2 separate regions of the Homo sapiens genome follow, and region 1 is linked to region 2. The links come from fine-mapping of genetic effects on gene expression. Tissue or cell type: ileum. Region 2 holds a variant in brackets; the other region holds the start of a gene. All regions are shown on one strand. Distances are between the middles of the regions.

Region 1 (8,000 bases), 28 kb after region 2:
TCCTTTCCATTTTAGGAGGTCATGGGAGGTCTTGTTTCCTCATCCATTAAGTAGTAATAATAACGACTTCCCACAGCACTGCTATCAGCGTAAAGGAGGATGGGGAAGTATTTTGTTAACTGTCCAGCCCTAGCCAAACATTAGTTATAATTATTCCATCCTGCCAGTTCCCAAAAAGCAAGAGTCAGGAATGAGCTTTGGCTCCTAAACCGGACTTCCCTATAATAGCGACACCCAAATTATGCAAGGCCGAAAGGTCAACTTCCTCCATGACTGCTTTTTCCAGACCACATCGAGGAGACACTGAGCCTCCTGAGGCCGGTTCTGTCAAGGACTGGCAGCAGACAGCCCTGTGTAGCCCAGAAGCCCGGTGCCATGTGTGGTAGGCAACTGGTCAGCGTGGGAGGAAGGCCCAGGAAGCTTTCCCTTCTACTTTGTTTGCATCTCAAAACGGTTTCAAACATATGAAACAAATATCTCCCTTCATGTAATGGGCTTGAGCATATGCTTGCCTGCTTGCGTTAGGGGCTGTAAATTGAAGAATATAAGTGGCAGCTTTCATTCCTCGTCACACTCTCTGAATGTTTTTGGCTTCTTGTATACGAGGCACCGGCTGTATAGTTCCCAACACCTGCTATCTATCCTCCGGCTAATCAAAAAGTTTAGCTACATTGCAGAAATGTCAAAAGTAATATATAGAGCTGAGATTTCAGAGGCCCCCCGTAGGAACAGGCTAGCAGGACTCTGTAAAAATGCCTGCATATATCTATGATTGCGGCATGAACGGCACTTGCTATCTTTTCCATACACTGTCCGTACACGCCCCTTGTTTCAACCCACTCCACACCAAGACTCCATTTTTGAATTGAAGAGTTGGAAGGGACTGCATGGATCCTTTACAGAGCACCCTAATTTGACAGACGATGAAAAGGATACCCCAAGAGATGTCACATCATGCTCAATACCATATGGTGAATTAACTTCAACAGAAGAAGGGAATAAAAAGAGCTCACAGAAGAAGCTGGGTCCATGCCCATATCATGCCCAGGCATCTGGCCAAAGCAATTAATCCTGTGAAAAATAATTGAAAAACCCATGGCTTTACGTAAAAAATTTAAAAATATTAATGCCAAAGTCCCTCCTCAGGAGGTTCTGGTTTAATTGCTCTGGGGTGAGGCCTGAGCACTGGCATGTTTCAAGGCAGCACAGATCATTCCGACGTACAGTCAGAATTATGAGCCGTCAGTTTAGAATAATACACTTGGCTGAAAGTCTAGTGGAATATAGTAGAAAAAATCCTGAACTTGGAGCCCGAAGACCCAAATTTGAATCTGGACCTTTTCATGATCATCAGTGTGGTTTGGGCAAGTTGCTTAACTGCTTTTATACCCACTACTTATCCATAAATCCTTACTTCATCCAGAATCTGAAACCCCCATGAGACAGTGCTCTTGAAAGTGCTCTGCAAACACTGAAATACTGTATCCATGTGAGACAAGACCTGCTGGAGACTTTTCTAGCAGAGCACCTTTCTCGTAGTTGCTTGGCTATTCAAAAATTGAATTCAATTCAACAAATAGGTATTGAATGGCTGGTAGGAAATAGACATTATGCTAGGTGCTGGCCATACAAAGATGAAGACATAGATCATGTAACTTAAGGAGTGCTGAGACTTGTAAGGGGAGGTGGACATTTAAACAAGGGGATACTACAAGGACAATAAGAGATGCAGCTTCAAGGGACAGAAACAGAACAAAGGACAAAGGAGGGGATGCTCACTCTGGAATATGGTGGTCAGGAGAGAGAAAGAGATATTTGTGCCAGCTTGAACAATCAGGTCTTCTAGGTGGAAAATAAAGAAGAAGGTTGCTCCAGGTTGAGGGATGAGCATATGCAAAGATACAGAATTGTTACTCAGCCAAGTAGTTTGATATGGGCTGGGGCACTGAATGGTAGGGTGGGATTCAGACCAGATCATTGACAGATAAATGAGATTATCATTCAATGTAGATTGACATAAATCACTTTTTTTTGGAGAAAGAAAAATGATGTTTAATGGCAGGTTTAAAATTACTATGGCTTTAAGAAGAACAGAATTATTGCACTCACTTTTTAAGGACCTGGTTATCTCTCTGAACCACAGGTAATCGGAGTTCAAAGAGTTAACATAGTCTGAAGCCTCTCATTGGTCTCAGGTCCAGAAAAGTTGCTAGGTTACTTTGCAGAAGAGAAACAAATAAAAACACTTTCCCAAGTGAAAAGAAAATTAATAGTAAAAGATGTGTTTAGGGACTTACACATCTGCAGAGCATTGTGTGTGTGTGTGTGTGTGTGTGTGTGTGTAACAGCATTAACACTTAACTAATAAAAATAACTAGGGTGGTTGGGTTTTCAGACTTGCAGGATAGAACTTGTATGAAAGGTCTGGTAAGGAGTGTCAAGTATAATGAGGAATAAGAAAGGTTAAAGAGTTTAAAACCAATTAGAATTTGAAGTTCTTGATTTCAGAACTCTAAAATCCTTTTTTTTTTTTTAAGTATGATATCTCTTTAAGAGCCATTTGGTGTACTTCATAGCCTGATTCATGCCACCAGCTGCCTCTGATTTCAATGAGAAATGCAGAAAATTTATAGGGAACTGTAAAATGGGGACAGATTTTTAGTTTTCTAAATTGAGGTTTAACTGGCAAACTTGTAAAGGTTGAAGAAACCACAGAGCCAAGCTATGGGAAGCTGGTTTCTTTTCTGGTCAGAAGGAATGAACACACAAACACATATCTAACTCACAAAGTGCTGGAAGAGAGAAAGCAATGCTCTTTCCAGAGGAGGAACACGGAAAAATCAGCCTTGTGGGTGAACAGGAGGAGAGTCACATTCGCCAGCAGGCAGCACCCTGTGCAGGCAGTGGGAGAAATCTGAGCTTCAGCAGCGTCCGGAGCAGGATTTGCACGAAGTCTCCCGTTTCAAGTTTTATGTCTCCTGGAGTCCTGGGGAAGGCACCCAGCCCACCCACAGCTCCCTTCTCAGAGCCCTAAGAATTGATGAGAAAGCCCCTCACTACCACATGCAGGACACGCAGGTGAGTCTGTCAGTGACAAGGTCAGACCTTCCCTGCTATTTGACACTGGTCCCCAAAAGGGAACCGTGCCCTCTCCTCCCCTGGCACGTACCTCATTTTCCTGCCTTGGGTGCTCCCGGCTGCCCGGCCTTGGTCCTCCCAGCTTGACTTGCCTGTGAGCTCGTGCCCGGTGTGGTGTCCGTGATGCCTTATCTTTGTTCTGAGGTCCCTGTGTGTCTCTGGAATTGGCTGGCATTCTCCATTCAGGTCACGCCTTCCCCTGCCTGCAACAGATCCCCTCTCCCCCTCTCTCCCTCTGGCTTTTCCTCTCTCCTCTCTCTCTCCTTTGACTTGCTCTTGCACTCCCAGGAACCTGACAACAAAATCTGTCTTCCTACCGAAAAGATCTGCTCCTTCCCTTCCCTCCTTTATCCTGTGTGGCTGACTTCAGCCCTTGAGAGAAAATAACTGAGGGGCTCAAGCAGGTATTTGTATCACTCTGTGTGTGTGTGTGTGTGTGTGTGTGTGTGTGTAGAGAGAGAGAGAGAGAGAGAGTGAAAGGGGACAAAGTCTAATTTCTCTTTAGTCTTTTTTGCCAGATGACTATAATTTTCTGCTTTTCTTCAGGACACCCATGAAAGAAAAGCAATTAAATAGAAACAACCAACTAAGAAGGCAATTCTAGCACCTACACTAGAAGAAAAAAAAAAGGTCTAAATCCCAGAGCGTCTGTCTGCAAATAACTACAGGTTTCCTTGTGAGCAGAGCCCCAAATAACTACAGGTTTTCTCGTGATCAGAGTCACACACAACGACAGGTTTTCCTGTGAACAGAGCCACGGGCCCGGAACTGGGGAAGCACCAAGTCCTGAAGTTGGCTGGTTGTTCCTCCCCATGAGCAATACCTGTGGCACTGTTTACTTGCTCGGAGTGTGTGCGGCTCTACTCCAGCCCAGAAAGGGCCCATCGCAGCAAGAAATCTCACCTCCCCAGGGGTGTAGAAAGACCTGGGCCTGTATATATGTCTATACCCATGGCTTCCGGAGAAATCAACACTAGATCTAAGATGAGCTGAATAATAAGAAAATTACCCCCTCCACAACAACAACAACCAACACTGAATAGGGAGAGGTGTATCTGGGTGTAAAAGTTAAGTTTGACTGTGCACCTTTTCTGTGTTAGACACAGTACTAGTCATTAACATCATCTCAAGTTACTTTTGCAAACTGGTGAAAGTGCTGCTGTTATACTCATTTTACAAGTGAGGACACTAAGGCTCAGAGAGAATATGCCACTTGCCAAGATCATCCAGTTATTTATGACTCCCCACTGCCACTAGCACTAGAAGCTAACAGCTATTGAGTGCTACGTGTCAGGCACTGCTCTAAGCACTTAATATATGAATTCTTTTCAGTCATCTTTATATGTTGTATACATGGCTGGCAATATTCTCATTTTTCAGAGGAAATTGCCCAGAGAGGTTAAGTAACTTTCCCAAGTTCACACAGCTAGAAAGTAATAGAGGCAGAATTTGAAGTGTTAGCCACTGTATTACACTGCTACTCATTAACATTTTATAATGCATATGGAATTTCAAATGCACACACACAGACGGCATTCATAGAGAAACTCAATCTGAGTCATTTTGAAAAGAAGATTAGACTCAGAGTTTAGCTGTAATCTTTCCTTTCTACCCAAGACAGCTGTGTACTTTGGGCACAATACTTAAGGTATCTGATTCTGTGTCTTCATTTGGAAAATGGGAGTTACTATGAGGCTTAAATAAGACTGTGCTTGTAGAAGTGTCCAGGGGAGTACCAGAGAGAGGGCTGCCAGCCACACTCACCAAAGCGGCAGACACATGCACTGTCTACCCTCAGATAACGTTCCTTTGGCACGTTCTGGGGAACAGTGGCTTGACTCTCACTGTACTTCTTACTCCATTTTCTCTCCAGTTTCTCTAATTTTCACACTTTTGAATGCCAGCCTTGCCAAGCTTGGCATTATCAAGAGGCTGTGGTTGATAAAGCAGGTACAAGTATATGAGATGGGAGGATATGTTTGAACTCAGGCACTGTTTTAGCAAAATGTGTTCTGTCTCAGTCAGCACAGGAAAAAAAGCTTTTAACATTCCCGTTAAGAAGACTCACAGGCTCCGCACACATTAAATAACTCTCACAAAACAACATTTTAATGATTTACGTGTAAATGAATCAGAAACACATGGACGACATTTCTCTTGGAATACACAAGGGTTTTAAAACTGAAGGAGAAAGAGCTTGGCAAAATGCACACTGTGCTGGGAAGAGGGCCCCTGCCCAGTAAAGACATTCCCTCAATTCATGCTGCCACGGAGTTTGCCCTCTCCTAATTTAGGGCATATACTGGGAACTGCAGTCATTTGTTCTGGGTACAGAGGGAAGAGCTTGGGCGAGAAAGCCATCAGCTTCTCCTTGGAAAGTGTCACAGAGCAATTAGGCCTCCTGGAATAATTTTCTAGCCATGTTTCTTCAAGGCTGCCAATGTTCAATGGAAAGCATTCGAGATGTGTTCTAAGCCAAAGTTCTGCCAATATATAGCAGATCTGATATGTGCGCTTCCCTGGGAGTTAGCCAAGGCTCAGAGGAAATCTGCATAAAAACAGGAACTACGTGGCCCAGGAATGATCTGCATGTGATTCAGGACAGTTTTCTACTTGGTTACACTACATATTGTCTGATGCTTTTGATGAATCTCCCTGAAGTGTCACTAAGAGATCATGGGTCATCAGGGGTGGGAGGAATGGAAGGGACATTAGGCTGGAAACAGAACTGGGCTCAGTGACTATAGGCCAGCTTGCATGTGACCTTGGGTAAGTCACTTACTTTCTCAGGGGTGGGGGTTGAGGGGTGGAGGGGTGGGGCATCAGTGTGTTCAATTATGAAATCAGGGGGTGGGACTCAGTTGAGATCATAGATATCAACATGTGGATATGAAGACTATGAAATGATGTCGTTGGGAGGGGGTTAGGTAGTTTGCTAGACCTAAAAGATTGTCAAGGAGTCCAAAATAGCTCTAATAATCTTGACATTGGCTTTTTCTGTGCTCATAATATTACTGATACTAAGAATTTAATCACAGATATTCAGAAAAAGTAATATTTAAAAAGGTTCAACTAGTTTTTTGAGTTTGGCAAAAGCGATTAAAAAATGCATACAAGGAACTGACATCATTTAGAATCATGAAAGCGTAGAATGACTGAGGTGGGCTCAGCACCCGCGCACTATAGTCCTGTAGTCCGGGAAAGGGATCAGAGAGCTGCCTACTAAGGGTAAATGCGGCAATATTCCTACCACTGGAAGAGGTTTTGGTTTACATGTTCTACCAAAGTATTTATTTTATGCAACTTTTGAGCTAGAGCTTCTGGAATTCAATGAATGGGTTAGAAAACGTAAAGAATTTGGGCAATGACTTTTTGTTGGTAAGGGCTGAAATCCAGGCTTCCTACAGAATATTTGAGAAACTGATAAATAGCTCCAAAGATGGCAGCTTAGAATGAAAATCTGGGTTCTTCAGCACATTGACTGACAGCATGCCGAAAGTCCTGGCTTCTGAGTCTATCAACAGAATAATGGGGAAAATATTTTTAAAAAATGACAATCTTTGAGCTTCATCCCAGGAGATTCAAACCCAATGAATCTGTGGGTAAGTCTCCTGAATCTGTAATTTGAAAATCTCCCCTGGCATGATTTTGCCACTTTTGGTACAAATAACATAATGATACATTTTATAATTGATGGCACCTTTGATTTGATAAGATGTCATTTGTATATGCCAGATACTTTTATATATATTATTGCATATAGTATTCACATCTTTTTTTACAAGTAAAGACATTGAGGTTCAGAGAAACTAAGCCTGCCCGTGCCTGTAAGTGAATGATGTATGTCTAGAGCCCAGGGCCCCCTGATCTCAAGTGCAAAGCTCTTCCCTGTCGTCTGCAAATTTCTCGTGCTTCTTGTGGACTCTGAACATTCATGTGCCATGCTGTCATGTGATTACAAGATTTTACAGAAGACAAAAAATAGCTTCTATTTAAAAAAATAAATGATTAGGCTCTGTTATGGGCTGAATTACATTCCCCTCAAATGCATATGTTGAATTTCTAACCCTCAGTACTTCAGAAGGTGACTGTGTTTGGAAAAAGGGCTTTTAATGAGGTGTTTAAGTTAAAATGGGATCCTTAGAATGGGCCCTAATCCAATACAATTGGTGTCTTTATAAGAGGACATTAAGACACAGACACACACAGAGGGAAGACCATGTGAAGACGTAGGGTGAAGATGGCCACCTGCAGGCCAAGGATAAAAGCCACAAAAGAAACCAAATCTGCCAACACCTCCATCTCGGACAGTTTTTGTTTATAGTCCCGAAAGACACAAGCCTGAAATCTATAATCCCAAATATGGAAATTCCAAAAAGTCAAAACCTCTAAAGTCTAAATCCCTAACATCTAAAATCCCCAAAATCAAAATCACAAGATAGTTGCATCATATTAGGTGGAACTCTTTACTTTGTCACTGTCTTTATGCAGAGGAAAATGGATTTCAATTGAATCCTCAAACCATAAAGACAGATTTGGAATTAGGTGTGATTGAGGTTTCTAAAGGTGAACTTCAAGGTATTACCAATAAAGTTTGTTTTTTTCCATTCTGTCCAATGTGTTTGGCAGAAACTTCAGATGAGTGGACTGGTCACGTGATACAGCAATGACAAAAACTTCAGTATTGGCATTCATTCCAGCTGATGGCATTCCAGGAGCTTTTAATGAATTAAAGCCACATTTGCCTGAAGAAGCCAGCGAAGTTACTAACTGGTTCAAAAACGATTATGTGCATGATGGGCAGTATTGTTGCAGTTCAATCACCAGTATTGCTTCCACCAGATTTGTGGTCTATATATGTG
Region 2 (8,000 bases):
ATAGATGAAAACAAAGATAGATAGAAGGAATGGGAAGTTTTCTGGCTGTTTCTGTTTGCCTCTTTCCTCTCTCACTTCTTTGCTTTGGACTGAGGTCTCTCTATTGTAGAGGAACTTAGGGGCCATGGAAAAGAAGAGAAAAGGAGTTGCTGGGTAAAGCATAATTCGTGGCTCAAAGAGAAGGAACTGGGAAACCCAAGTTTTCCCCTAACTTGACCAGACCAATTGCCTACAATAGGATAGGAGACAGCAACCTGTATAGTGAAAAATGCTGCCCCAGAAAGAAAGATGGCCAAATAGTCTAGAGCTTCTCTCCTTTGGGAACCCAAGATCAGGTTTCCAGGCTGGGTGGGCATTTCTGCATCTTCATCCATGTGGTGTCTGAGGTGCATCATTGACTTCATTTTTACTTGTTCCTATTGCATATCTGTCTTTCTCTGAGCCTCATCTAATGTTATTGAGGATGTGGCCTATAAGGGCAATGCATACAATCATTGGTAGGCTCTACCTCGGCAGGTCCTGTTGTCTGTGTGGAGGATGTAGCCGAAGCGGCAGGAGCAGTAGTAGCCGCCAATGTAGTTGTGGCAGTAGTGGTCACAGGACAGCTCCTCGTCCTCCCTCTCCTTGCACTCGTCCACATCTGTAGGGCAGGTAAAGCCTCTCCATCAATACATGCATGATGATGAAGACTACAGCCAACATTTATAGAGCACTTGATATGGGCCACTCACTATGTTAGGAGATTCATGCGTTCTCTCATTTAATCCTCTCATACAGCCCAGAGGTAGCCATTATCTTCACTTTACAGACTAGGAAACTGGAACTCAGAGAGGTTAGGCAACTTACCCAAGGTCACAAAAAGCCAAGTTCAAACCCAGGTAACTTGACTTCTGGTGGGACCACTATCCTCTAACAGTTATAATAATAACTGTGTGTGGGACAACAACCTCAGGAAGAATTACACATTTGTTACTATGCATTCTGTTACTAGTCACATTCTATGGAGGATGAAATGGCGACATAGAGGCATTAACAAACTTAGAATCACACAGATAATAAGTGGCAGACCCAGGATTTAAATACAGACAAGCTGGGTACAGAGCTTGTGCTCTTAACTTCTACCTCATGCTACCTCTTTCTTTCTTTCTGCCCCTAATGTGGGTCAAGCCCTGTCCTAGGCATTTGAATGTACATTTCCCCAAAAGGGATAAACCAATGGCCAACAAGCACATGAAAAGATGTTCAACATTGCTAGTCATTAAGGGAATGCAGTTTAAACCACAATGAGGTACCACTACATACTCACCAGAGTGATTAAAATTTTTAAAAATTGACAACATCTAATGTTGGTTTAGATGTGGAGCAGCCAGAACTCTCATACATTGGTGGACAGATAAAAAATGTTACATTTGCTTTGGAAAAGGTCTGGCAATGTCTCATAAAGCTAAACGTATACCTATCCTATGACTCAGCAATTCTTCTCTTACATATTTACTCAATAGAATTGAAAACATATGTTTGCAAGAAGACTTGCACAAGAAGGTTCATAAAAACTTTGTTAGTGAGAGCTAAAAAATGGGGAGATTCCAAGTAGCCGTCAATAAGAGAATGAGTAAACATACTTTAGTATATTCATACAATGGAAAATTACTCTGCCAGGAAAAGGAGCAAATTACTGATGCATGCGACACATGAATTAACTTCAAAAACATTATGCTGAGTAAAAGAATCCTCACCCCCAAAATGTATTCTGTATGTTTTCATTTAAATGAAGTTTTAGAAGAGGCAAGAACTAATCTACAGCAGAAAAAAAATCAAAACAGTTGTTTCCTCTAAGGGAAGTGGGAGCAGAGATTGACTGGCAGGGACACAAAGGAACCCCCTGGGCTGGTGGTAAAGTTCAGTGTCTTGTTAGAGGTTTGGGTTACACACAAATACAGATTTTTCAAAATTCAACAAATGTATACATGAGATATGTATATTCCATTTTATGTCAATTTTACACAAAAAGAAAAAATGCTGTGAACAAATATGAAACTCTAGCAAAATAATATGCATGCTGAATTATTTAGGAAGAAGTATACTGATGTCTGCAATTTACGTTAAAACACTTTGTAAAAGATGAATTGCTGGATGGATAGAGGGTAGATAGATGGATAGATACGTGATAGAGCAAATGCATTAAGACATTAATGGTAAAATCTATGTGGTGCACACACAGATTTCCATCGTAAAGGAGAGGTCACAAGGCAGTTTTCATCTTCGGAGAGAGAGAGAGAGACCTGAGGATGAGTCACTTCTCCAACTTACCCACAGCCATGTAGTGGGCATCAAAGCCTGTGAAACGCTCCTCATTGGAGAAATCTGACCGGAAAGTGATGGACATGAAGGAGCCAGGGGAGAGGACCACCTCCTGGCCGGGAGTCTGCTCTGTGTCTGTGGTCTCCCTGCCACAGAAGGTTGCCAGCACCTGGTCCTCAGTTTCTACCTTTGAGGTCAAAGAGAAAGGGAACAAGATGAGCAGTTTCCCAGCTAGGCTTCTTTCCTTATCTTTAGAAAGAAAAAGGAAGGGGCCACCCAAGAGTAGGCTAGTCAGCCTGAGAAACCCAAAGAAAGGAGGTTAAGGATTCTTGAGAAAAGACGCATTACAAGTTAATTCAATGTGGACATCTGATCAGTTTCATTCGTCTTATTTAGTTCCATTAGAAGTAGCTTGATATTTGTTGTTGCTGTCAATAACCAAGCAGCTTATTTATTAAAAATAACTCAATATGAAAGTTTTAAAAAGTTAGATAACCTCGCAGACAGATTCTCTGCACAACAGGAACTTACCACATTTCCAAAGAATGGAAACTGTATACACAATATAAGTCATTCATTGAGTATCCAGTGTGTGCCTACTGCCGAGCAAAGCATGAGATGGAGGTGATGAGAGATAGACACAGTGCTGTGCACACAATAGCAGTGTTGAGATTGAGGAACACAGACACAGGCAGGTATTACACAGTGTGACAAATGCTTTCACACAAGCAGAAGCACTGCATATGCACTCAAAGCAGGCAAACAATCCACATTAGAATATAAGCTACAGGAGAGAAGGACTTTATTTTCTTTATAGATGTGTCTTCAGTGCATGGAACAGGACCTGGCACATAATAGTTATCCAATAAACATTTGTTTACAAGAACTGAAAGTACAAGCCCCATTCTGTGAACAGTGAGTAGCCAGGGAGTCTGTGGGGATTGTAGGAGGAGATGTACTTGGAAGGATACATGGAAAGAAAATTATGGTTGACCTTGAATGCCATTAATTCTGTGAGTAAGTGGAAGACACTGAAAACTTTTAAGCAGGAAAGTCATGTAATGAAAACTAATGTTTAATAGGCAGTCTTAATACAGAAACTATTTATTGGAATCACCCAAAAATAGTTTGAGTGTGTATCTCTGT[G/T]TGTACATGTTTGTGTTAAGACTTAGATGCAAAAAACATGCCTGTTTGCTAAAAGAATTCCCTTCTTTGGAAGAGCCAGAGGCCCTGTGCGAATTCAGAGATCCAAGCAGAGATCCTAAACTGGTGGCTTAAAGCTGATTTTATGTGAGACAGGAGTTTGGGAAGCTTCGTATGATAGCTAGTTGGTATATTTATTTGAGTATAAATTCTTGACGTATCTATTCGATTATCTTATACCTAATCCAATTCTTTTAAGTTGTATTTGTGTTTGCAACCTCTGGACCAAATTTTAGCCAAGATGCATGAAAAAAATCTCTTACCAAGAATGATTCCTGCTGCCTTTCAAAGTCATTAGAGAAAAGTTCTCAAAGGCGGCTATCTCTAGTAGCTTCTAATGAATTCATTGTTTTGTTCGTTAGCTTAGCATGTCAGAAATATCTTGACATTTGACACTCCTGTTTTGAAACTAATGGTTTATTTATTTAAAATAAGTGGGAGTTTCAAAGAAAAACAATTTGCCCTGGCAACAAAACGCAAGTACAATTAATCACTAACTTTGGGAATTGAAGTGTAAACAGAAGATGAGATCATGGCTTTGCTATTTATTCCTCTTCTCTGCAGATACCAGCCGAACTCACACCAGTCTTGTTACTATAGAATGTGCCTATCTGCACACAGCTGAAATGTCACTTCCTTGAACCTCCCAGCTGCTGTGTTATTTTATCTGACTCAGTTTTCCAGATAGCCAAAGCTTTACCTAACTATAACTAAAAATTTTCTTTTTGGTGTAACACTTAAAAAAAAAAAAGTACTTTAAAGAAGTACCCACTTTCTCAAGTGAAACATGCTAACCCTTTCTTGGTGATCCAGGGACATTGTTATGAATGTCAACCATTGTGATACTATATTAAAGTGATAATCTTGGGGATATTGAGTTGTGTAATGTCGCTTGACCTGGCGTTAAACATTGCCGGACTATAAAGCCTTGAACTTCTGAAGTCTTCTTTATGTCATGTTTTATTTCCTGTCTTTTTATCAGCCTATTCACTGTACTTTTCTGTCTGCTTATTTTTAATATGTTGTGAATTAGAAACCAGTTAACTGCTTTTGCTAGAACTTAATAAAAAAAAGCTAAATAGATTTAGAATGAGGGCCTGGGAAAGGGATTCTTCTGTGAGTAACTGCATGAACTAGAGTACACCATCTTGGTGACCTCTGCTTTGGAGTAATACGATATACAGGAACCTGGCAGTTGGAGGTCCTGGGTCCTGTTCCTGACACTGCCGTATTCTGCATTTTGGGCCATCTCCTTTCTAGCTCTCAGTTATCCACTTGTAAAAACAGGGGTTTGGACTAGCTGAGCTCTAGATTCCTTTCCAATTCCAGACATAGCAGTCATCATAGTCTAACACAGTTCTAACAAATCATCATAGTCATATATTATATAAACCAACCAGAAGATGGTAAGCAGGAGTTTTAACATATGCAGGATTACTGCTTGCGGATGAACTTGAATTTGTTAATAATGAATAGTCATGCCTTGGGCATTAATAGTTCCAGCTACACAGGCTTCTTTCTGGAACTTGGTATCCCCAGTGCCTCTTGGGTTCTGCAGTGACTGGGACATGAACATTTTCAAGTGAACACACTGGTCATTTGGATTAGGGAGATACTACTGAGGGTCTGTGATAAATGACCTCCCTCCTTGTAACGTCTGGGCTGAAGGACCTTTTCATAATGGCAGATAAATCAGATAAATGGTTATCACCTGCAGAGCCACAGTATTCCAGAGAACAGGAAGCATGCCCCAGCTGAGGCCCATGGGAAAATTTGAGCCATACATCCTTTTAGAAGCAGAGAAGAGAAGGCCAGTAGCCTGGGGCCCTGGGAATTCAGCCTGCAGCTCAGAATAGAGTCCTGGAATATCAGAGCTGGGCGGGACCTTTAAGAGCTATTTCTATCTGCCTCCTTCTATAGGAAACAGAGGTCAAGAGAGGGGAAGTGACTTGCTCAAGGCTGGAGAGATAACATGAACATTTTCTGATATCAGTTTTGCTTTGGGAACTATTCTGAGATGAGAGAAAAGAACCCACCAACCCAGAGAGTACATGACTAAAGACACAGACACTTGGCCAAACAATTTTCCTGGCTCAAAGGCCTCTTGAAACCTTATCTTGGGTGCATGGACTGTCTCTTAGAGAGGATGTGGCTCAGTGACAGCTCCAGTCATAACCTAAACAGAGGGGTCACTGGTCCCGGTTAATATTTGCATCCTGTGCTGTGGAATATGGAGTTCTATAAAGATCATTTACCTCTGAGTATAGGCAGATTGAGACCTAGCTTCTATTTGGACTGTCCCCTCTCAGAGGTCATCATATCAACATGATGGAGGGACCTTATCAAGTGAAGACAAAACATTCATAATAATGGAGACCCATGTGGCTGCGAATAATAAACTCTTCATTTTTCTATTTCTTCTTGTGGGCGACTATGTCCTTAGAGACTATTGTTATTTAGGACACCAACATGTGGCTGTATGTCCTCAATTTGTTTTCTTTCAACTCAATTCACCAAATATGTGTGTACTAAGTTCTGTCTACACTTTAATGTGAAGGGTGCCAAAAATTATTTATTTGTTATACGAGCTCAATAAGCAAGTTCCCTGCCTCTAGGAATGTGACACTTGGTAGAAGAATAAGATAAGTACTCAAAGGTATATGTGTTGGGGTATTCTCAGGGTATCGTAAATGCAATCAAAGATGGGCTGCCCTGGGGGTTTAAGGAATGGAAAAGATTGAATCCAGCTGAGGGAAATCAGAAAACATTTAGGAAGAAGAGAATAATCTTTGAGCTGGAGACTGAAACGTGAATAGAATGTAGGCAGGTAGAAATCATAGATGGAGGGTAGGGGGTGGGTAGAGTATGTAGGGAGAGGAAATAGTGAAGGCCTGGGGTATTCAAATCTCAGCTGCTCCTCCCCACTACCCATTACCTGGCGTCAGAAAGGGGCTCTGTTAAGGACAGAGAGCTGGGAAGGCACATCTGATAAGGAGAAGCCAAGAGGCTTTGGTTTCTATGAGTTTTCTACCTCAGCAGAAACAGCACAAACCTGCTAGGCAAAACTATGGCAGGGCAGCTGGGATTGGCCAAATTTCTGTGGAAGGACAGCTACTCTATGGAAGAACAGCTACTCTATGGGAAGACAGCTACTCTATGGAAGAACAGCTACTCTAGGGAAGGACAGCTACTCTCGCTATGTATGGCTGCTCTCTGCATGTCCATAAATTCATTACATCAGCTAAACAAATGCATTGACAGCTACCAACTGGCTCCTCAAAGCAATGTATAGAGAAAGCAGCCCAGGGGGGATTGCTCTCCTTTTATAGATGAGGAAATTGAAGCCCAGATAATTTGAACAAATTGGGCAAGGTGACTGGTGAATCTAGTGAGTGGTGAATGAATCTCATGATAAATGAATCTAGTGAGTGGTGGATCCAGGTCCACAATTGCAGCATCCTGATTCCCTAGCCAGTGCTCCTCAAGACATTAGGCAAATAAACAAAGGCTGTCTTATAACCCAAATGCCTCATGACTTTGTTTGTCAATGTTCCCGAGCTATCTCCTGGAGCCTTTCTGAAATCTGCTCAGGGCCCTTGAGGAGCATTGCAGACTTAATTTAGGCAGACATTTAGGGAGTATGCTGGATTACCCTGTTGCCAGTTTAGTTAATCTGGGAGCTACGTTCCCCAGACTTTCTTTCCCTGTATAGTTCTAGATTAGAGTTGGCCAAAAGAGGAATTTGTGCAAGTTTGAAAGGCAATAGTCATTACTCACTGAAGGCTGTTTTGTAATCACATACAGAGAAAGAAATGTGTAGATGTGTCCAACACATCCTCACTTGCTCTCACGTTCCTCTACTCTGCACCCGGCTCTTTATAACTACTGGCTCTGATGACCAACAGTGGCCCATGCCTATCATCAGATACTTTCAGGTGAAACCACAGAGGTGGTAGCTGCTTACAGCCAACAGCTTCTCAGAGACCCTTTTCCATGAGCCTCCCCTTCATTGTTGCACTTTGGCCCCTTAGGTAGAATTGACTTATCAGATTCCCTTGCAGATGCCAATATTTCCACCCATGCCAGGGCTTTAAGAGAACTGCTTGGTGACCTTTTCTCTAATCCTTTAAATCCCCATTTCCAACTTTTACTTGCCCAGCTCCTTCTATAATTACGAGTTCTAATACCCATAAATATTCATTATCTCACATTACTCATAAAGACTTTGCTTTCCTGATTGAAGTCTGACTGAAATAGTTATTGATACCAGAAGTAGAATGCTGCAGTAACAAAAAACTAGAATATGTGGCTTCAGTTTTAGGATTGGCTAGCAAGTAAATTCTAGAAAAACAGTGAAGAGACTGCTATAGGAGTCTAAAACAGACCACTTGAATAATGCAATGGTGAATCAATTGGCAAAACTTGTCTGCGGCAACTTAGAAGGTAGAAAAATGTATGTAATGGGCAAGGTGTGATGCCTCATACCTGTAATCTCA

Evidence for each region. PIP is the estimated chance that this variant, and not a neighbour inherited with it, causes the effect.
Region 1: MASP1 starts here. The variant in region 2 is fine-mapped to the expression of MASP1 in ileum (GTEx, PIP above 0.99). The same link has a PIP of 0.9 or more in stomach.

What each region holds. Positions count from the first base shown.
Region 1 is chr3:187,288,459-187,296,458 of GRCh38, forward strand. MASP1 (MBL associated serine protease 1) reads right to left here and starts at 3,279. Exons shown (of 11, transcript NM_139125.4): 1 at 3,170-3,279. The coding sequence starts at 3,174. LOC101929130 (a long non-coding RNA gene) reads left to right here and starts at 2,814. Exons shown (of 2, transcript NR_135551.1): 1 at 2,814-3,078; 2 at 7,768-8,000. RefSeq lists an enhancer at 7,056-7,632.
Region 2 is chr3:187,260,233-187,268,232 of GRCh38, forward strand. It overlaps MASP1 (MBL associated serine protease 1), which reads right to left. Exons shown (of 11, transcript NM_139125.4): 3 at 2,311-2,488; 4 at 509-640. Among named protein-coding and RNA genes, the nearest start is that of MASP1, 28 kb to the right of the region's middle. The variant G/T (reference allele first, on the strand shown) is at 3,448.